3 linked regions of the Homo sapiens genome follow. The protein of the gene in region 2 purifies or fractionates together with the protein of the main gene of each other region. This does not show direct contact. Each region holds a gene or a part of one and is shown on either strand. Other genes may lie near its edges.

Evidence for each region. The genes of interacting proteins can lie anywhere in the genome.
Region 1: the proteins of RYK (region 2) and PCDH7 purify together in Homo sapiens (affinity purification with mass spectrometry; 3 studies listed by BioGRID and IntAct, with this or other methods). This does not show direct contact.
Region 3: the proteins of RYK (region 2) and ADGRA3 purify together in Homo sapiens (affinity purification with mass spectrometry; 3 studies listed by BioGRID and IntAct, with this or other methods). This does not show direct contact.

What each region holds. Positions count from the first base shown.
Region 1 is NC_000004.12:30,723,306-30,730,705, reverse strand, and holds part of PCDH7 (protocadherin-7 isoform d precursor), read right to left. Parts: coding exon 6,110-7,400; intron 1-6,109.
Region 2 is NC_000003.12:134,170,836-134,178,235, forward strand, and holds part of RYK (tyrosine-protein kinase RYK isoform 2 precursor), read right to left. Parts: intron 7,239-7,400; coding exon 7,106-7,238; intron 5,205-7,105; coding exon 5,095-5,204; intron 4,934-5,094; coding exon 4,774-4,933; intron 1-4,773. UniProt on the Homo sapiens protein: May be a coreceptor along with FZD8 of Wnt proteins, such as WNT1, WNT3, WNT3A and WNT5A. Involved in neuron differentiation, axon guidance, corpus callosum establishment and neurite outgrowth.
Region 3 is NC_000004.12:22,512,730-22,520,862, reverse strand, and holds the start of ADGRA3 (adhesion G protein-coupled receptor A3 precursor), read left to right. Parts: upstream 1-4,796; 5' UTR 4,797-5,078; coding exon 5,079-5,335; intron 5,336-5,477; exon of another isoform or gene 5,478-5,551; intron 5,552-8,133. UniProt on the Homo sapiens protein: Orphan receptor that may have a role in planar cell polarity pathway.

The DNA of each region.
Region 1 (7,400 bases), on a different chromosome or scaffold from region 2:
AAGAAATTTTCCCCAGTGTCTTATGCCCAATTGGAAAGCTTTAGTAGAGATTTCGGAGCTAAGAAAAATTTTAATGCCAACTTTGTGTTTGTAAATAATAAATACACTTGGGGGGTGGGGGAAGTTAACTTGTCAGAGGAATCCTACCTGGGAGCTTTAATAGCTTTTTGTTTGTACACAGCATTAGAGTTCAATACAAACATCACTACATTCCTGAAAATAAACCTTGATTCCGCCTTTAAAACATTAATTCACCAGAAGTGATAATTAAGATTAGTTTTAGTGGTTTCAGCTCAATTCTTCTTAGAATGTGATTTTTCCCACAACACTAATGCTAAATAAAGCACAGTGTAATGTACCGCAAAAGAGTCACTGCTTTAGAAAAGATTCTATGGGTTTTTTTAAAAAAACTAAGAAAAGCAAAGCTTACTCTAGATATATGGGAACAGCTCTTACTATTTCTATAGAGTCATAGTAAATAAATGAATGGGAAACCTTGCCATAGTCTAGAAATCGATTATACACTCTTTATACATGACTATTCTAAACAAAGTCATGTTATATATTTAAAGTTATATATATATTTAAAATACTGTATATAATTATACTAAATCTCCTACATAATCTCCACCACCACATCCTCCCAGGAAAGAAAAGATGTTAAAATGTTTAATAGAGTAGATTGCTGTGTTGAAGTAATGGCTTTGTCACACTATATTTAGTTTTTAAAATAGTTCAGATTTTATTTTTAAAATTAATAGATTCAATAATTTATATTTTATCACTGTGCAAATTTAGAATCTAGTACACTAGATTGGTTAACTGCCTAACAAGGAAGCAATCCAATTGAAAGTTAACAAAATGTCATATTCTTCTAAAAACTTGCTAGAAAACAAATTAAGAGAAAACATTCGTGCATGACTGTGTGTTAAGGATGCTACTAAAATAAAATGTATGTGCAAAGTTGATAAAATGCACACAAGCCCAGAAGTCAAAAGTAATTATCAATATTGATGAAAAAGGTAAAAGATTATCACAATTAGAATGCATAAAAAGTTTCATACATAATGTGTAGAATGTTTTAATTCTTTTCTATTTAAATGAATTTTTATTGAAATATACTAATTGCTAGGAAGGAACTTATGTCTGTTATCATTGTTCTGCTAATATTAAAAATTCTGTCAACAGAATATATGTTCTTAACCATGTTAAGATGCTTTACTCTATGTTATCAATTACAATCCTACATGAGGGAAAAGAATTATTAACTTCTTTAAAATTCTGTAAATTTTGAATTATATTTTCCCAGATAATTTTACACAGAAGAACTGGAGCCTAAAGCAGAATTATAGTCTATTGTAAAGATGTCAATCTTCATAGCCAAATATATAGTCATAAATAAGTAAGTAAATTTCAACAGATTTCTACTGCAATTGAAATACACACACAGAAAGTTACAGAAATTCAGTTTTTTTCCCCCAAAGGTAGTATGATCAGATAAATAAGAATACTGGACACTACATTCCATAACTTGGACTCTAGTCCACATTATATCCCTGACAATTTTGTAATCCCAATCAAGTCACTGTTTCATGCTGGGCCTCAGTCTCCTCTTCTATTAAAATGAGGGGACTGTTTGACACCTTGTAATTCTAAAATGTGATGATGCTAGTGATTTCATGTACAGTCATTAAGCTGTTGATTATAGTATATTTTATTTCAACATTGTGTATGTTTAAGCTTAGATATTTTTCACATATTAATCTATAAACATCATGACTAAATAAAAGACTAATACAGCTATAAATGGTATACACTAATATGTGTGTATATGTCTCTGTGTGTACAGAGTTTGTGATATAAACCATGTTCACACTTTTTCACATACGAGATATGTAATTACTCAAAGATAGAAGGATAAGAAAAAATGATTTTGCCATATTTATTGTACTAGATGGCTCATTAAAATATTTAAACTGACTTTGTGGTCTTACATCTAAGTCATTAATTGGTTTAGGATAAGTTTTGGATAAGATTCAAATAATCATGTGGACTTCCATATAAATTTGCAAATTCATTGCGGATCAAATCAATGGATGACCTTTTCCTTATTTCATAGACATCCAGAGATCCAGATAGTGTTGCTTTACTAGATGACTAAAGACACAGCCTAACTTCCATCAGCTATTAGTGTTTTGCCTATGGTATCAGGCCAAATGTAACGGAAATTACAACATATGCAGATTCATTGTGCCTTATGAAAACATCCTTGGTTATAGACAGGAGAAAAACATTGTAAAAATTATGCTTACAGAATGAGCACTGGAAGCTATGGTTGGCATCACTATGTAGATGCATTTCCACTAAAGAATATATATATATGCTCTCTCTCTCTCTCTCTCTCTCTCTATATATATATATATATATACATATGTATGTATACACACACACACACACACAAATGAATTGACATTTAGTTTTCTTATTGCTTAATAGATGACAGCAAGTCAACCATTTGCTTCCAAAATTGAAGCAATTAAAAAATTCTCCCAAATTTTTTCACTAGGTATACAATGAATATATTGAACATAATTCGATCACTAAAGAGAACATTATGAAGACAAACTGAAACTGTCACTGAAGTTAATGTAAATTTTTTGTATTTCAGGATCAGCTGCAAGTGGATTTTAAAATGGATGTTTATTCAAACTAAGCTCTTGCCAAAAATAAATTACCTTACTTTCCATTTACTAAATACAATAAAATTTTTACTTGTAAGTGCATTATCTAAATAACAGCCTATCAAGGATAAGCTCAATAGAATTCAAGAATAATAAGCAAAATAGTAACTGTACTTTTCATACTATCACTCTTTGGGGGGATTACATTATTTTAAAAGAAAATTGAAAAATGCTTAGCACATAGTAAAATACCAGAGACTTAAAAATAAACAGAAAAATAGAATGCGTATGCCTTTATGTTATGAATGAAAAACACAGTTGTACTTCTAGTTCACAAAAGTTTAACAACTACCAAGACCAGGTTTACCAAGGAAGAATGAAACAGAAAGGTGGATACTTAATCTCAATCATGCTGTCAATGATCCACATTTTGCTCAGCTAAACACATTATTTAGCTGAGAGCAAAGGCTTTTGTTTGAAATGCAAAGGTATGAACTATGAAAATTTGGGCTACATCATCAGTGAGTTTTTCTAAAGTGTGAATTTCGGAAATAATTCCAGCAACTCTACCACACACATTTCCTAGAGTCTGCCATAGAAGCTTGATTTGAATGGCTCTCAAGTCTATGTAAACAAAACAAAAAGTAAGCAGTTAAGGGAGAGTATTATTTACAAACTTTCATTTCTACAAAGCTGTTTAACCTATTATAATGAAAACAACAGGACTTAGGTTCAACACTTTAAAATGTCTAATTTTCATGAAGATAAGAACACTCTTAAGAAACATCACTTTAATTTTTTCACAAATAAATAACTGCAATAAGGCAATTCAGGAAAACTATAAATAAAATGAATGTAAAATGAAATCTCAATTTTTAAATTAGACCCTGCTGTATGGAATTGAAAGAATACAACAGTCTAGTTTTACCTTAGATAAATCCATTTATCAAAAGAAGGAAATTCCCGCGAAACCCTGAATTCTCTTTTTTTCTTTTATAACATCAGGTTTAATCAAAGAAAATATATTTTGGCAGTTCTGTAAAAATTAAAGGTCATATATTTTAAAAATAAAAATAGGAAATTGTCTACTTATGGCACAAACAAAAAGCAGAACAAAAAGGATCCCATTTATGTCAGATGTCAAAACGGAATGTAACTTTGTAAATGGATCCCTTGTCCCCTGACAGCAATATTGAGGAGATGAAACATATCAATTACTATTACTAATTACATTAAGGGGAATGTGTTTCATCTGCCTTTATTTCATTTTAGGTCAGCTATTTACTTGGGGTTAAAAGTGTATACTTCTTTTGAATATGTAATGACAGAAAAGTTTTCCAAAGTCACTTTTGGCAAACTGTGTGATTCATTCCAATTGCTTTGAGGGTTTTCTCTTTTGGAATGTGGACTTCTTTACTCAGTTAAAAGGCTAACACCATATATTAGTTTATTTATAAGCATATCACTTTGCCTTTTAAACAGGATGCCAACAGTCTTGATATTAGCTGTTTTAAATATTCAAGCATATAGAGCTAACCTCATCTGATGAGCCAAATGAAGCTTAAGTAACAGCACAGAACATATGAAGTGTTTGCATAAAATATCCATAAAAGTGTCACTTGATATGTCCATTCAAAAGCATAAGATTACACAATTTAGAACGCAAATGCTATCCAGACACAGGACAGAAGTACCATTAGGATAAGAACCGAGGTGTAAATATTCTGCAGACAGATCTCTTCACACTCCTTTGCATTAGGTGTTACTATTTTCTAGAGAAATGTCTACAAATCTCAATTTATTTTTGAGTGTTTAATCTGTAAAAAGTGCTACCATTTTAGCTAGAATCTTCCTTGTTTACAACACCAATAAAAGCACCAAAACAACACAAAAATCAGCTTCTCACTCCATGTAACACAATAATACAACAGATATAAACACTCCACTATGTCAAATGTTGGTTTAAAATAAATAAATAATTCAAATTCACATACACCAAAGGACATATTTTCAAAAGCCATTTAATGCAAATGTAGTTTGAACTGGTGTTTTCTTGGATTGCATTTGTTATTAGATATAAAAGTATATTCAGACTGTTTCTCCTTATCTGAATAGCTACAGTAAAGTACTATATACAGAAAATATTTATTTAAAATACTAATTTCAATAATCATGAAAGCAATTAAGAATTCATATCTCTTTCTATAACTATAATCTTCAATGAGGCTATAAAATAACTTTTTCCTTTGCCTCAATTCTTCTCGGATTCCACATTCCACATGCAAAGCATGTTTAATAGAAATTAGATTGACAATCATAACTGTGTTTCTTGAGATGGGTTCTGACAGTAAGAAATACGTAATGTTTTATTAGCTGAGGTTGCTGTACCATGAGACACAGTCCTTTCCAAAAGGTCTTGTTTGCTGTGTGGCAAACTTTGGTAGATATACAAAGTAAACTTTCTGAGGATGCTATATTACACGAGGAAAACTTTCAAAAATAAATTTCAGATTTGCTTAAGTTCCGCCTCAGAATATATGTATTTTTTACTGTTTCCACATTTCACTGAGAAACTATTATGTCAAATATTCCACATAATCTTTACATTCTCAATATATCATAATGCATACCAAAATAGTCTTGCACACAGTACATCAATCATGAATATTTTCATTACTTGGCTTAAATAATAAATGGCTCATGCAATGTATTTTTGTTTGCAAACTTTTAATACCAAACAGAAAGAATGCAAATGGTAATTGCATATCATTATAGAACACTAATTGTTATAGGTATCGATTATTATAGATATAAAAGATTGAAAGTGGAGTTTTGCATGACATTTGCATATCAGTAAATATTTTTAAACCAGCAGTTTCATCAAAGTAGTCAGTATTTCAATATCTCAGACTTAGTACTACATCTGCATGAATCAGCATCTATTTATCTGTAAAATCCTGCATTGTAAATAACATAGCTAAAACTTCTATGGAATCCAATTTGCATAGACACCAGTAGTAACTTTAGAAACTTTTTCTCTGGATGTAATTATCCACTTAGTTGCCACAGAAGAAAATAATTTCAGGTGAAAACTAACCATCTAAGTAATACACACATATTTATTCTGGAAACAAAAAAATGTAGTATGAATTAGGGATGTCAAGTGCAAAGAGAACTGCCAAACACTGCCTACTCTGAATACTTCTTTCAGTAGTTTAGTGAACCTTAATTCTAATTTGCAAAATACAGTGGTATACCTCTTGTAGATGGCCTTTGCTAAATTAATGGTGCAAAAATTAACATTAAATTCCTACTGTTAAAATTTTAATAACTTTAAAAACGAGAAGACAAAACTTTACAGAAGATAATCTGTCTCAGAGTTATTAGCCCTCCCTGGGATATTTAAATATATTTGGGATACATCTTACCTGTTTGCTGTACTTGTTATTGGTTTGACAGCTGTACTCAGAGCAGTGATCTGATCCAATTGAAATGTTGTCTCCTGCTCCCACAAATGTGTTGGCTGGTGGTAGATCTTGTACGGCCTGGTGTTTTTTTCCTGCAGTTGGTGACTGGGGATGAAGCTGAACAGTAGGCAATGGGGAACTAGATTTGTAATGCCTTGCCAGGTCAGGACTGCCGGGCCCACCATTAACGGACCTGTATCGCCCCATGCTTGGGCTGTCTGACAGCTTCTCATTGACACTATCATACCTCTGTCCATTTGGCTTAGAAGCCTCCACAGTGACAATGCTGCTGTAGAGAGGCTGCTTAGATTTTTTGTTTTTCTTGTCCTTTTTAGGCTTTTTAGATTTGTCATGCTGTTGGGGTGTAAAAAAGTCTTCGTGATCTTTTTTGCCGGCTTCATAGCCATTTTTATTTTTGGACCTGCAGTACCTTGCCATCACTACAATTAAGATGATTAGAATCACCGTCATAATGCCAGCAACCACGCCAATGACAATACTGAGTCTCTGTTTGCTAATTTCATAGCTTGGGTCACCAGCTATATCCTGGGTGAGTGGGATGTGCAAACTTCTAGCTATCTGGGAGTCAATCGCAGTTGCATTAGAAACACTTTCATTGACAAACACGTGCACCAGAGTCGTGGTGGACTGGGAAGGCTGCCCACTGTCATTCACTTGCACCACCAACCTGTGCAAGCCATAATGCTTTTGGGTGAGTTTTCCCACTAAGGAAACCACACCACTAGTGGGATCAATTTCAAACAGCTTGAAGGGATTTCCTCCCACAATGCTGTAGTTCAGGTCTGCATTGATGCCATCATCACTGTCTGTTGCCAACACTGTAGCTACTACTGTCCTGACATTACTCGAAGGTGGCAGTAAAGTGTAGGAAATGTTTTTGGGAAGGGTAACTGTGGGAGCATTGTCATTTTCATCCATCACAAAAAGCGAGACTGTAGCTGTGGCAGATCTGGGAGGATCTCCCCCATCCACAGCCTTGACTCTGAAAGTGTATGTGGTCTGATGTTCCCGGTCAAAAGACATTGTGGAGTAAATGGTCCCCGTGTCATTTTCAATAGAAAAAATGTTATTGTTCTCCTCTATGTACAGGCTCATCTCTGCATTCCGCCCCTTGTCAGCATCCATCACGGTGACCATCCCCACAGGGCTGTTGGGCTGCAAGTTTTCTTTCACATAAAAGGTGAAGACGTCCTGCATAAACTTAGGGTCATTGTCATTTTTATCAGCCACC
Region 2 (7,400 bases):
CCCTGGCATCTCTATTGGAGATGTGGCAAAAAAGCTAGGTGAGAGGTGGAGTAATTTAAGTGACACTAAAAAGCAGCTTTGCATCACAAAGGCAACAAAGCTGAAGGAGAAGTATGAGAAGGATGTTGCTAACTGCAAGTCTAAAGGAAAATCTGATGGCGCAAAAGGTCCCACTAAAGTTGTCTGGACAAAGGTGGAAGAGAAAGGCAAAGATGACGAGGAGGAAGAGGCGGAGGAGGAGAATGAATAAAAAACTCTATCTGTAATAACAAACTAAATAACTAACTAAAGTAATTCTCTTGTGAATCTGCTCACCATTAAGTTAATGGTGATATTTTAAAATAAAGCTGCCACATGAACAAGCAACTAAGTATTTGGTGTAACTGCATTCTGATGATGGCAGATTCTTACATAAAATGTGTGAACTCCTGCAAAATGTCATAACCATAAAAATAACTATTTCTGATATAATTTGAAATGTTCTGCCTAACCAAACCATGTATCCTCAACATGAACTTTGCCAGCTAATACCCAGCTGAAGAGACTCAACGCTCTTGGAGCATCTTGCTTGGAGATTTATTATTAGCTATAGCCTCATTTGTTGAAAGTATATTATCTAACTTAATTTTCACTCTGTAGGTCCTACAAAATATTTAATCATAAATGTTACAAAAAAATAATTCCTATCATCGCTTAATTATACAATGGTATACCTACACAGAAATAAATACGTTAAATTAAGTAATACAGGCTGGGTGCAGTGGCTCCCGCCTGTAATCCCAGTGCTTTGAGAGGTCAAGGCAGGAGGATCGCTTGAGCTTAGGGGTACAAGATCAGCCTGGGCAACACAGCAAGCCTCCATCTCTACAAAAAATAAAAGAATTAGCCACGTGTGGTGGCACACACTGGTAGTCCTAGCTACTCAGGAGGCTGAGGCAGGAGGACCACTTGAGCCCAGGAGTACAAGGCTACACTGAGCTATGACTGTACCACTGCACTCCCACCTGGGCAACAGAAGTAGCTAAGGAAAAAAAAAAAAAGTAATACATATTTTGGGGGCCTCCACTGTGCAAGCAAATAGCACTACTTGCCATCTTGCATACCCCTTTGAAATACAAGCTATCAATGCTCCTTTTTCTAAGAGAATAATAAAAAGATTTCCAACCTCTTCAAATTACACGAAATACTTATAGATTATCATCTAAGAATTATCTTCCATTTTCTGCCCATCGAACTAGTTTTGGTTCACCACAACAGCCATATCATTTCAGCAAAGGCAACTATATTTCAATAAATAACAAAATAAAAATTTTAAATCAACCACTGGAAATAAAAAAATTAACATCCCAAAGAGACGAGTGAATCCATCTTTTAAATCAACTACGGAATAAAATTTTCAAAGTAAACACTAAGAAAAGTTTACTTCACTTTTCTACATTTAAAAATGTTTAGATGTGAGCTTTTACTAAAGGAGTAAATTTGAGATCACACTGCTCTAATTCAACTGATATTATGTTTTAAAATTATGTTCTACAACCAAAGCCAAACCAATTCCTCCTGTCCCCTTTCCCACTCCATGAAAATAGCTTTGCTTAATGTAGAGCTGGTAAACAGTTCCAGCTACAATTCAGAATTTCTGAATAAAGATTTGGCAACTCTAAAACCAAAAACATTATCAAAGAGTAGAACTAGTCCTTACTGTCATTCAGTACAGCAGCTGTGCATTGGTCTAAAATCAAACTCTGCTTTCCCTTCGTATGTCATTTGAAAAATATAAAAATCAAAACCAAAAATGTAACCTTTCTCTCCCTAAAAAAAAGCCCAGGTTCTCATTACGTAGAGATTTAAAAAGAATATAACCTGCTTTGCATATTTGTACTGCTTTACTTGGTATGTTTAACTTCTAGACATTAATGCTAGAGAGAGATTTTTTCTTTATCATCAGAGCTCTGGAAAAACAGACCAGGACTAGTACCCCACTGCTCTATAAGCTGAACCCTGGGATTCAGTATCCAAGAGTCTGGCTTTATTTCCCTCATCCTGCCACCCATCACCCACCATGCCCGATGCCTCTCTGGCTAGGAGAGGCTGTGGACAACATGAAACAGGTTGTCATTCAGTGTTAGCTTCTGAGACTGCTCTGTGAAGCAGATCACATCCCTTCTCATAATCATTCATATTTACTTTGTTCATCTCACAAATGTCAGATAAATTGTTTCTTTGAGAATAGTTTATCTTGAGTTAAAACAAAGTATTTTGAAGATATATAAAATGAAAGACCTTGATTTTAACAAAATTAGCTAGGCATGGTGGTGCGCGCCTATAGTCCCAGCTACTCAGGAGGCTGAGGCAGGAGAATCGCATGAACCCAGGAGGCGGAGGTTGCACTGAGCTGCAATCGCGCCACTGCACTCCAGTCTGGTGATAGAGCGAGACTCTGTCTCAAAAAAAAAAAAAATTTAAAAATTATATAAGTAAATTGCTCATTCACATTAAGTGAACACATTTTATCAAAATACTTGGTATGTAAAAGGAGCAATATATCTGTATTAGTCCCTTCTCACACTGCTATGAATAAATACCCAAGACTGAGTAATTTATAAAGGAGAGAGGTTGAATTGACTTATTTCTGCAATGATGGAGAGGCCCCAGGAAACTTACAATCATGACGAAGGAAAAGAAGAAGCAGGCACCTTCCTCACAGGGTGGCAGGATGGAGTGAGTGTGAGCAGGGGAAATGCCAGACGCTGATAAAAGCATCAGATCTCGTGAGACTCACTAGAACAGCATGGGGGAACCTGCCCCCCATGATCCAATTATCTCCACCCTTGGTCTCGCCCTTGACGTGGGGATTATGGGAATTCCAATTCAAGATGAGATTTTGGGTGGGGACATAGCCAAACCATATCAATATCAAATAGCACATAGTTTCTAAAAAGGAAAAAAAATTTATTTAGTAGTTAGAGTTAATTAAAGGAATTTTCCCCTTTCTCAAATTATTCTCATTTTAAGGATTTTAAATTAGAATATCAGTTTTTCAGTAAAGAAATCTTAGATCATTTCAATTATTGACTGCAGTGAACTGAATGGTAGCCCCAAAGATATGCCCATGTCCTACTCCCTGAAACTTGTAATTACCTTACATGACAAAACGTGATTAAGGATCTTGAGAGGAAAAGTTTATTCTGGATTATGTAAGTGGGTTCTAAATCATATGTATCCTTTTAAGAGGGAGGCAAAGAGAGTTTGAAAGACGTATGTGAAGAAGAAGGTGGTATGAACTTGGAACAGAGGGATGGAACCGCAAGCCAAAGAATGCCAACAGCCACCAGAGCTGAAAGAGGCAAGGACTGCTTCTCCACTAGAGCCTCTGGAAGGAGCCCAGCCCTGACTACACCTTGATTTCAGACATTTGGCCTCAGAAGTGAACCACGAGAGACTATATTTCTATTGTTTTAAGCCACCAAGGTTGTAGTAATTTGCTACAGCAGCCACAGAAAACTCATACACCGAGGAAATGAGTATATACCAATTAATATAATTAATTAGCGTACAGTAATACATGATTAAAAGATTAATCCTTAAAACATACACACTTTGAAACAAAAGAGTAGCCCTAAATTTTAAAATATAGACACACAAAATACAATGATACAGTAAGCCCAATTCTTACAGTTGAAGCTTAGAAGCAAATTATTCTATAGGATTTTACATATAACACAAACAGATTATCACTGAGTGAACATATGTGGGACCCTATAAGCAGAAGTTTTACCTAATCCCTAAATATTCTGCAACAATAATAAAGTCTAACAGGCAAGAGACAGGAAAATAAATTACACTTAGTCTTCCAAATAAGACTAAGAAATCAAGTGACAGAAATTTTACATGGCTGTAAAATATGAACAAGTGAACGTGGCTTCTGAAACTGTACATCACAAAGGGCCCAACTATGATCTGGCTAAGTGGCAAAACCACCCAGAAACTTGACAAAAGGAAGAGGATGACGGGGGGATTTACAAATTTTATGAGCCATAACACTTAGAAGAGGTCACCTGAAAAAAAGAAAACATCTTTATGATCTAGCAACTATTTGGTCTGCCTCTTATATAAGAAAGAAATAATAATGAAATTACTGTAACTGCTCTGAGTCTCAAAATCCTCACCTTTAAAACTGGGATACCACAGCCTATCTCCTAGTGTTAATAGTGCTTCTGTCAATGGGCGTGGTGGCTCACACCTGTAATCCCAGGACTTTGGGAGGCGGAGGCAGGTGGATCAACTGAGGTCAGGAGTTCAAGACCAGCCTGGCCAACATGGTGAAACCCCGTCTCTACTAAAAATACAAAATTAGCTGGGCATGTGCCCATGGTGGCACACGCCTGTAATCCCAGCTACCTGGGAGGCTGAGGCCTGAGAATCGCTTGAACCTGGTAGGCAGAGGTTGCAGTGAGCCAGGATTGCGCCATTGCACTCCAGCCTGGGCTACAAGAGTGGAACTCTGTCTTAAAAAAAAAAAAAAAAAAAGTGCTTCTGTCAGAGCAGTACTGTGAGGATGAAATGAGATTACAAACAGTGCTGGCCTATGGTCTGGGTCACAGCTCCTCTCCATAAACTGGTTGACTGGCAGCTAATTACACTTGCTTTCTGGATAAAAATTTCCGGGAACAGCTAGCAGATTTTTTAAAAACCCAAAAGATAAAAATAGTAGAACATTTAAAAACAGAAAGCTGTTTCTCTATTCTTTTGCTATCTGGGGGTCCCGGCACTTACCACATCACTAGCGCTAGAGAACTCGTTATTAACCAGACTTTCAAGAGCCATCCAACGAACTGGCCTGTTTTCATTGTCCCCCAGACAGTGATAGTCCATGGGGAACAAGTCTCTGGAGAGGGCATTGTCTGTGATCTTAACTTGAAGTGTGTCATCAATGCTGAAAAGTAAAGATATGAACATCAAATGCAATCAGAGTATTAAAAAGTAGGGATCATCACCACCCTTAAATACAACACAAGTCCCACTGTGACTCGCAGAGAACCCCAAATCCAGGAAGCACTCTACATCAAGTGACAGCGTCAAGCTCATGGCACCTACACACAGTTCCTGGCAGCCAGGTCTTTGTGGATGACTTCCCTTCTGGCCAGGTAGCTCATTCCACAGGCAATCTGAATAGCCATGTGTACCAGGTCTTGCTGAGAAATTGCCTGTGGTAACAAAAAATAACATGGTTTGCAAATAGCACACAAATATGATGGCACTTTCTTACTTTTTTTATTCCACAATCCTACTCCATCCAAAAATACTGCTTTAAACCTACACACAGAATTTTTAAAAGCTATTTCTTGACCAAGACTATGTTCCCATATATCCCTATACTTATATCAACTGTAGTCCTTATTATTCTGTAATCTACCATTTACTCTGTCTCCTTTCATCTGTTAGATGTATCTCCCCAATATCCAGCACACACAGCAGCTGCTCAATACATCTGTTCAGTGAATGCTGAGTTCTCAAGGTAATATTTCAAATGTTTATAATTCAGTAATCTTTTTTTCCCCCAAACAGTAGTTTTTATTAGGAGATTCTCTCTTTGGGATTATTTTCAAATTAACACAAATCTAAGCCTGGTGCAGTGGCTCATGCCTATAATCCCAGCACTTGGGAAGGCTGAGGTGGGAGGATCACTTGAGCCCAGGAGTTCGAGACCAACCTGGACAACATACTGAGGCCCTGTCTCTACACAAAATGATTTTTTTTTAAATTAGCCAGGTATGGTGGCATGTTCCTGTGGTCCCAGCTACTCAGGAGGCTGAGGTGGGAGGATTGCTTAAGCATGGGAGGTTGAGGCTGCAGTGAGCTGTGATCACACCACTGCCCTCTACCCTTGGTGACTGAGATCCTGTCTAATGAAACAAAAAACAAAAAAACCCTGCAGCTGGGTGCGGTGGCTCACATTTGTAATCCCAGCACTTTGGGAGGCTGAGGCAGGCAGATCACGAGGTCAGGAGATTGAGACCATCCTGGCTACCACGGTGAAACCCCGTCTACTAAAAATACAAAAAATTAGCCGGGCGTGGTGGCAGGCGCCTGTAGTCCCAGCTACTCGGGAGGCTGAGGCAGGAGAACGGCGTGAACCTGGGAGGCAGAGCTGGCAGTGCTGAGATCACGCCACTGCACTCTAGCCTGGGCGACAGAGCGAGACTCCATCTCAAAAAAAAACACAAAAAACAAAAAACAAACAAAAAAAAACCACACACAAACCCAAAGTACGAGCTCCTAGCTTTTTCTGCTGATGTGTTCTTCTAGGTGTATGACAGTACTTGGGGCTGAGGAATAAAATCCTTCCCCAGGTAATGCAGATGAGCCACAGCCTCTAACCACTTATTGAGAATCCCAGCTTTAGTCTTGTCAATTTACAAAGCATATGATACATATTAGGCCAAATACTGAATGCAGCCTTTGAACCCACTTTCTCCTGGCAACTATAATAAGCATACTATTATAAATCCTAAAGCAACTTAATGGGACAACAAGATACAGCTGACAGCAAAAAAAACCCACTAGGCTTTACTACCACTACCATCATAATATGCTTGGTATCTGACCTTTGCTTTACAGTTATAAACACAAGCAGGGAAGAGAAACACTCTTAGATGACTGCCATCTTACAGCCACGCATATTAACAATACATCCAATTATCTCCCACAATCTAGACCTCCAGTCATCACCAGACTTTGGTATAGTATGAACCAAATGGCTCTAGAAAGTCTGTTTCCATTCCTAAGAGGAAGATCTAGGACAAGTACCCTCAGTTATCAGGAAAACACCTAAGATGGCATTACAAAGGGTTTGAGTTGATTATGAATAAGTACACAACGAGAATATAAGGAAAACTTCAGCATCAGCACAGTGTAAGCCTCAAGGCAGGAACATAAGCCAACATTTTCCTTTAAGCCAACAGGTTATAAATATCTTGTGGTTCATTTTGAGGTTCTTTTTTGCAGGCCTCTAAACAGTTTATATTTAAGAATGTTAATATCTACTTTCAAAGACATTATCAGAAACTACTGGTAAATAATTGGTATTTGGGCAAATTTTTCTCACCTGTGGATTATTGGCCTCTACTAACTTGCACTGTCGTAAAAACAATTTAAGATTCCCCCAATTCATGTAAGGCAATATCACCATGGGCTTTTCTCCTTCTTCTATACACACATGAGTAATAGGAAGAAGATTTCTATAAAATAATAAAAAATTGGGAGAAAGACAAAGGAATCCAAAATGTTAGGGGCTTACTTCTAATAAAAATAATCTAAAACAAAACAAAATCCCCAAAATACTTAAAAACATGATTACCATTAAAAATGTAAAATTATAAGTGTTCTGTATTTTAAACCAG
Region 3 (8,133 bases), on a different chromosome or scaffold from region 2:
TAGTTACTGTACACTGTATTTTATTTTTTTAGATAAGAAGAAATCTTAGAAATAGTTGAAGGACTAGAAAGTGGGTCCTCTGAGGCATTCAGCTGGATGCCTTTTTAAAATGTTTTCTCCAGTCATCTGCCCCATTACCAACTGTTTTTGTCTTAGAAGTCCCTCTTTGATTATATAAACCAACATTATTTCTTGTTCTGTTATGAATGAACATTGCTTTAGTCCTTCAGTAAGCCCATCACAAATTTTCACCATGTCATTTATAGGCACTTTCTCTGTAGTGTTAACATCATCTTCATTGTCACTGATTATCACGATCAACTTGATTCAAAACCATTTCAGCTACTTCATCATTGGTCAGCGAATGAACAACTGGAGCCTCATTATCCATGATAAACATTGTTTGATATTCACTTCTTCCAGCTTACAGACAGACAGACATTGGGGGTATATTTTTTGCATGTGTGAGTAGATCAGCCGTTATTTTTTTTCTCACTTGACATACACAATCCTTCAAAGTCACTACCTTGTTTATCATCACTGAACATAGTTGCAGGCCAGAGATTGTGCCAGGCATGCACAACTTTGTCTATAGTCACTATGTTCCAAGCATAGGCAACAGCATATATGGCATCCTGCAGACTAAAATTTTTTTTTTTTTTTTGAGATGGAGTTTCGCTCTTGTCACCCAGGCCAGAGTGCAATGGCGTGATCTCAGCTCACTGCAACCTCCGCCTTCCAGGTTCAAGCAATTCTCCTGTCTCAGCTTCCGGAGTAGCTGGGATTACAGGTGCCCGCCACCATGCCTGGCTAATTTTTGTATTTTTTAGTACAGACAGGATTTCACCATGTTAGCCAGGCTGGTCCTGAACTCCTGACCTCAGGTGATCCACCTGCCTCGGCCTCCCAAAGTGCTGGGATTACAGGCATGAGCCACTGCATTCGGCCTCATACTAAACTTTTTTTGAAAACCTCCACGCCCATTCTTCTGTTTATTGCTGCTAGCATGCTGTTCAAGAAAGTATTTTTATATTTATCCTTCAATGCTTTAAGGATATCCTGGTCACATAGCTGAATCAATAAAGTCACATTTGTGGGGAAGTACATGGCATAAACATGATTTTTGATAAGAATTTCAGCTGGAGAATAAGCAGAACAGTTGTCAAGGAATATAAAATCTTGTAGTCGTCATCCAGTTCAGCTTTCCTGCAGTGACTGTATGCCTCTGGTACAAAATGTTTGTGAAATCAATCAGAAAAGATGTCCTTGGTCATCCATGCCTTTTTGTTAGCAGAATAATGGACTGATAAGAAATTCACTCCTTGAAAAAAAGAGAGGACAAACCTTTGCCTATCACAGCAAGTTTACACTTATGCGTGCCTGCAACATTAGCACATCCCAGCACAGCTATTCTGTCCTTGGCATTTTTAATTCCTATAGAGGCTGTCTCATCTGCCACCGTCAGTGTCTTTCTGGGGCAATGATGCCAAAATAGTGATGTTTCGTCAGCATTATAGACGTGCTCTGGTATCCAGTTTTCATCAGCGATGATATGGGCAAACTCATTAATGACTTTTTCCACAGCTTTCTGATCTGCAGATGCTTTATCACCACAAATCCTTAAACATTTAGTGCTGTGTCTTTGCTTAAATATCTGCAACCAGCCTGTTGAATAGTCACAGTTCCTTTCAATTTCAAATTCATTGTGATAGATCTTTGCTTGTTTCATGATCAGCATACCATTAAGTGGCATGTGGTCACTGTGATGCCGATGGATCCACTTTTTCAGTGCACAATTGAGATCTTCATATTTTGCATCATACAGTGTTTTTCTATTTTTCATTTACTTGTGTTTATCGCTTTTAGCATAGATCTTCAATTTATCCTTCTGTTTCTTCAGATTATACATGGCGGTCATTCTGTCACCATACTTTTCTGTAACAAATCTCATACCCATACCACTGTCCAGTTTCTCTAACAGCTGGACTCTGTTGCATAAACATAATAAATGCTTCCTCTTTTTATCACTGATAACCACAGATTAACTTCAGGCTTCTTTGATATTTCTTTTTTTTTTTCTTTTGTTTTTTTTTTTTTTTTTGGAGATGGAGTCTTGCGCTGTCACACAGGCTGGAGTGCAGTGGCACGATCTCGGCTCACTGCAACCTCCACCTCCCTGGTTCAAGCGATTTTCCTGCCTCAGCCTCCCAAGTAGCTGGGATTACAGGTGCCCGCCACCACACCTGGCTGATTTTTTTGTATTTTTAGTAGAGACGGGGTTTCACTATGTTGGCCAGGCTGGTCTCAAACTCCTGACCTCGTGATCCGCCCGCCTTGGCCTCCCAAAGTGCTGGAAGTACAGGTGTGAGCCACTGCACCCGGCCTGATATTTCTTTATACTAACAATAGCTTTACACCACAGAGCAAAGAAAAGGAAAACAAAAACCAAAAAACAACAAAAAAGCAAACCCACAGTGAGTAATGCACGTAGATGAAGGCCCAGTGTGGGCATTGTGGGGAACTTGTCGTTGGCAAATCCAGCCTGCATGCATGCCATTTGATTACCTTTGGGGGGCACGCTTGCATGGGGGAATTTAGGCATGCCCTGAAAAGATATATAGCAGCAGAAAAGGGCTGGGAGGGGCTTTTTTCCCTTGGGGATGCTAGTAAACTGCATAGTGTGTCTGCATTTTGATGGTGACCCATCACATGTGACCAGGTGTGGAATTTTGCACTTGAGGTATTACTTGTCGGAACTCAAAAAGTTTTGGATTTTGGAGCATTTCAGGTTTTGGATTTTTGGATTAGGGATGCTCAATGCTCAATCTGTAGTAAGGTTTTATCTTAATCAAAAAACAGATCATTATTTTGTTAGGGAATAATAATTCTTCAGATAAATTCAAGAGAAATGTGATCCATTTCACCCACCTTAACACAGAGGCACCAGTGTGCCTGCTAAGGTTATTTATAGATCCGAAGTCACTTAATGGTGCAGATAATCTCCCACTTTTTCTTCCCATCATAGTGTCTGGGCTTATGTTGTTCAACACCAACAGGGTAGCCACTGGGCATTTAAATTCAAATGTAAATTAATTAAAATGAAATGAAAAATTTAATTCTTATTGCACACTATCTACATTCCACACACTATGTAGCCACAGTTGGCCACCATATTAGACAGCAAAGAACTAGAACAGCTATACAATCACAGAATGTATTATTAGACAGCACTGGACATGGTTGGGTTGGTCAAATGAACTGCTATTCAAATTTAATACAACACTGATAAATGATAAATGGAGACCATTTATTTACTTCCCATTGAGAAAGCTCTAGCCAGATAAACAGATTCCTGCAAATTGGTCCCTAAGATAAATTTTGTAGGGGCCAGAGGCAGTAGTGTCCTTAGACCCAAGCAAGAAAAACCGTGTTCTAGGCCCTCCATTTTAGAGGACACCAACCTGACTCTTCTTATGGGGTGAAAAATCTCCAGGCCAGCACCCAAAGCCTGGGTACCCACTATGTCCCCAAGACCCAGGACCCTGGAATTCCCTGACTGGTATTACCAAAGCCACTTCTTGGCCCTGAGCTAGCTTCTTCTGAGAACTGTCCTCCCAATGAAGGACCCAACAACTGGTATAGGCACACCTGAGATCCAGACGCAGACAGAGGGTGGCTGTTAGAAAGTGTGAACAGAACTTGGTTTTGTGGGCTGCGGTGTTCACACACAGGTACAAAAAATCCCCTCTTGTCCTTGAAGATAGCTGGGCACAGGAAGCAAAGACGGTGAAGGTGTACAGGCCAAAGGTTTGGATCTGACTCTTTCCCACCTGCCATGTTTCAGGGAGAAACTCCAAGGTGTCTGAGAATCCTGCTTACAAACCTTCCAGGTTGTTATGAAGGTAATTTCTCAAGGCAGGAGCACAGAATATATTTTATTAGCATGATATAGTCCTTGTAAAATTTTAAACATAGGGTAGGTAAGCCCTGGGCTTGCAAATGTTAGGGCGAGGCTGGAAGTCAGAGTAATCAATTCTGTTGGGGTTTCTTGGAGGGTTTGCTCATTATTGCTCGAACTGGTGAACATCTCAAGTATCTTTGCCTGTCGAATTTCTTTCAAAAGGCTGCCTTTCTAGTGAGGTCCAGATGCATCCTTTAGAGACCATCGCTGTTGTTGCTGAAGGCCAGAAACAGCTTCAGATTGTTCACTGTATTGAAGAGGAACCTGTTTACTGGCTCCAGTGTATTTGGGACAAATAAGACTACCATAATGAGGTGAGAAGGCGATTCCTTCCGAAACACTTGGTTTTGGGTACTTTTCCCATAGGGTTGGTCAGGGAAATTCCCTACTCTCGTCCCTACTCCATCCTCCGGGCCAGGCTCCTTGGGCCACATGGGCAGTCTCCAGGAGCGCACAAGACTGCTTTGTCCTGTGCCCGCGGTGCGAGCGCGGTGGCGGCGAAGGGAAACGAGCAGGAGAGTGGCCACCGCGGGTGGAGTTTGGACTCGAACTTTCCTCCGTTCGGACTCGAACTTTCCTCCGTTCTCTCTACGAGTTACTGCCTTCCCGCGGGCTCCCCACAACTCCTGCCCGGAGGCCGAGGCCCGGGCGCGCACCGGGTCGGAGTCGGGCTCGGCAGGTCCCGGGAGCGCGCGCCTCCTCCCCGAGGTCCCGGGCAGCTGCAGACACGGGGAGAGCAGGAGAGCCGGGAAAGAGGAGGGGAAGGGGCGGGGGCGGCCGCCGGCGGCGGGCGGGGAGGAGCCGCCGCGCGCGGGTCCTGGCCAGGGGAGGAGGCAGTGGCGGCGGCGGCGGCGGCAGAGGAGGAGGAGGAGGCGGTGCTCGCGCCGGGCGGTAGAGCGGCGCTGGGACCCATGCGGCCGTGACCCCCGGCTCCCTAGAGGCCCAGCGCAGCCGCAGCGGACAAAGGAGCATGTCCGCGCCGGGGAAGGCCCGTCCTCCGGCCGCCATAAGGCTCCGGTCGCCGCTGGGCCCGCGCCGCGCTCCTGCCCGCCCGGGCTCCGGGGCGGCCCGCTAGGCCAGTGCGCCGCCGCTCGCCCCGCAGGCCCCGGCCCGCAGCATGGAGCCACCCGGACGCCGGCGGGGCCGCGCGCAGCCGCCGCTGTTGCTGCCGCTCTCGCTGTTAGCGCTGCTCGCGCTGCTGGGAGGCGGCGGCGGCGGCGGCGCCGCGGCGCTGCCCGCCGGCTGCAAGCACGATGGGCGGCCCCGAGGGGCTGGCAGGGCGGCGGGCGCCGCCGAGGGCAAGGTGGTGTGCAGCAGCCTGGAACTCGCGCAGGTCCTGCCCCCAGATACTCTGCCCAACCGCACGGTCACCCTGTGAGTATCTCCCGCGACGCTGGGTCCTCTCCCGCTCGGCTCTTTCTTATCTCTCCGCTCAACTTTGGAGCAGGGTCCAGCCGGCACCCACGCGCCTTTGTGTGGAGCTGTAGGCAGGGGGCGGTGCTAGGAAAGACCTCGTGTGCTTGGCATGGGTGCAGTTCAGGGAAAGGCAAGGGAATCTGCGTCCGAGCTGCCTCCCAGCTCCACTAGTTTGCAAAGTAAAGTTTTCGGGTTCTCAGGCGCTCCCCGCGCTGTCCCCGGCGCAGCGCTTTTGGGCTGCGCGGTGCCACGTGAGGATGCAAGTAAACACGCAGTCAACAGAGTTAAAGCTCATTCATCCTGGGCTTGGGTTTCCAGAAAACACAATGCTTGATTGCAAGCGCCAGTCCTTCTGCTTCTTTGCAAATTAAGTTACACTTACGTGGTAGAGTTTGCAAAACACAAGGACTGTGTGCGAGCCCAAACCCCAAGACGCTTCCTTTGCCTTTTGCTATCTTAGTTTTATTACAGTTAAAGAGCACCTTTTAAGATAGAGTTGTTATTAAGGGCTGGAAACATTTCAGATCAATCTGTTTATGTACCTTGCAGTCCCGTTTTCGTGTCTGTGAGGGCTTATATTTAAAAGCCAGGAACATTGGAACTGAAAACCGTGGGTTTATTGAGCCTTCCAACTCGAGGGATTTTTGATTTTCGGATTGAGTTTCCACCTGGAAGGAAAAATTTTGGTAACTCACTTGTGCTGGGATTCACGGTTCAGTTTTGCAAACGTAGTTTTGCCAATTCTAGCTGAACAGTTGGCCCCAGTGACTGTCGAGTTTGTTTTCAGAAGGATGAATTGGTTTGGAAAGTTTTGAGTCTAAGTGTTTCTCATGGGTATTTTGTTCAACTGAAATGTGAGTCCCTTGGCTCGGGGTTCCTCTATGTTGTTTTGGTTGGTTTCCTAAAAAAAGAATCAAGGCAGCCACTATACAAACATGAATGCAAGGACCGCAGCATGATCTATGAAAACACTTAAAGTATGGTTTTAAATGTAACCCAAATTCAGCAGGAGTATACACAGGTAGGCCAGGTATACATTTCATTACTAACACTTTTGTTTACCTTCATTTCCATTTTTTGAATTAGGAAACGTTTAACCATGAAAATTGTGTCTATGTGTCTATTTATGGAGGCATGAAGATGGATGAAAGAGTTTTTGTTTTATTTGACTCCGTTACTAACACGTTACCATGTGGTGGTGGCAGCAGTTATATTTATTTATTTCTTAGTCAGATTCTTTGAAGTGGAAATTTTCGGTATGGGACTTTAATTACAGTCCAAATGGAGAAAATCCCAATGTTGGAGGAGATTTTCTTTGTTACTCTGCAAAAATTAGTCATCATGCAGTTATGTTATAAACATTTAGGTTTTGGGTCAATGAGTGACATTTACGTTGACTCATGTTTAGGTCCAGTTTTTCTGACCTAAAAGTGTCCACAATTTCAGCTGGATTAGGTCAACTACTAGTAAATTGTTGATTTTGCGTTGCAGAAAAAAATAGGGGATATGGTGGTAAATTGATTTTCAGCATATTACCAATTAAACTATTTTTCTACAATTTTTAGAAACTGGTTAAAATATAAGTAACTATGAAATGTCATTTCAATCCAGTTTTTTTTTTTTTTTTTTTTTTTTTTTTTGCCTGAAAGCTTTTTAGATGAAAATAAAGTTAAGGTTGGGCATGGTGGGCTCACACCTGTAATCCCAGGGCTTTGTGAGGTCAAAGCGGGTGGATCCCTTGAGGTCAGGAGTTCAAGACCAGCCTGGCCAACTTGACGAAACCCTGTCTCTACTAAAAATACAAAAATTAGCCAGGCGTAGTGGCGTATGCCTGTCATTCCAGCTACTTGGAAGGCTGAGGCAGGAGAATCACTTGAACCCGAGAGGTGGAGATTGCAGTGAGCCGAAATCGCACCACTGCACTCCAGCCTATGTAACAGAGTGAGACTCCCATTCAAAAAAAAAAAGAAAAAAAAAATTTGTTTAGTGAATGGGAAGAAGATACAATTAAGGATCAATTAAAGCTGTTCTGCTGGTTGTGGTGGCTCATGCCTGTAATCCTAGTACTTTGAGAGGTGGAAGTGGGTGGATCACCTGAGGTCAGGAGTTCGAGACCAGCCTGGCCAACATGCTTAAAGCCCCATCTCTACTAAAAATACAGAAAATTAGCTGGGCGTGGTGGCGTGCACCTGTAATCCCAGCTAGTCGCTACTCGGGAGGCTGAGGCAGGAGAATTGCTTGAACCCAAGGAGAAGGAGTTTGCAGTGAGACAAGAAGGCACCATTGCGCTCCAGCCTGGGTAACAAGAATGAAACTCCATCTCAAAAAAAAAAAAAAAAAAAGAGGAAAGTTGTTCTGGCTGAAGAGGGTTCAAGGTATATGAGGCCCCCTGTAGAGGGGTCTTATGGGCCAGTTTCCTCATTTTACTGGGGAAAGAGTTAGAGTTACTGTAGATAAGGGACTTGCTCACCAGAATTCTCATAGTAGCATCAGAGTCCACGTCCCAGATTCCTGTCCTGCAGTTCAGATGCTTTCTCATTCCTCACCTTGCCTTCATCTTAGTTGAGCACAGTTTTTGTTGAGTGGCCTCTAGGTAGTAGGTAGCGTGTTGAAGTTTGGACTGTGTGTTAGTGCCTAGGGCTGCTGCAGATTACTACAGGCTTGGTGGCTTGAAACAACAAATTTATTCGCTCATAGTTCTGGAGGCCACAAACCCCAAATCAATCTATTAGCAGGGCCATGCTCTCTCTGAGGAC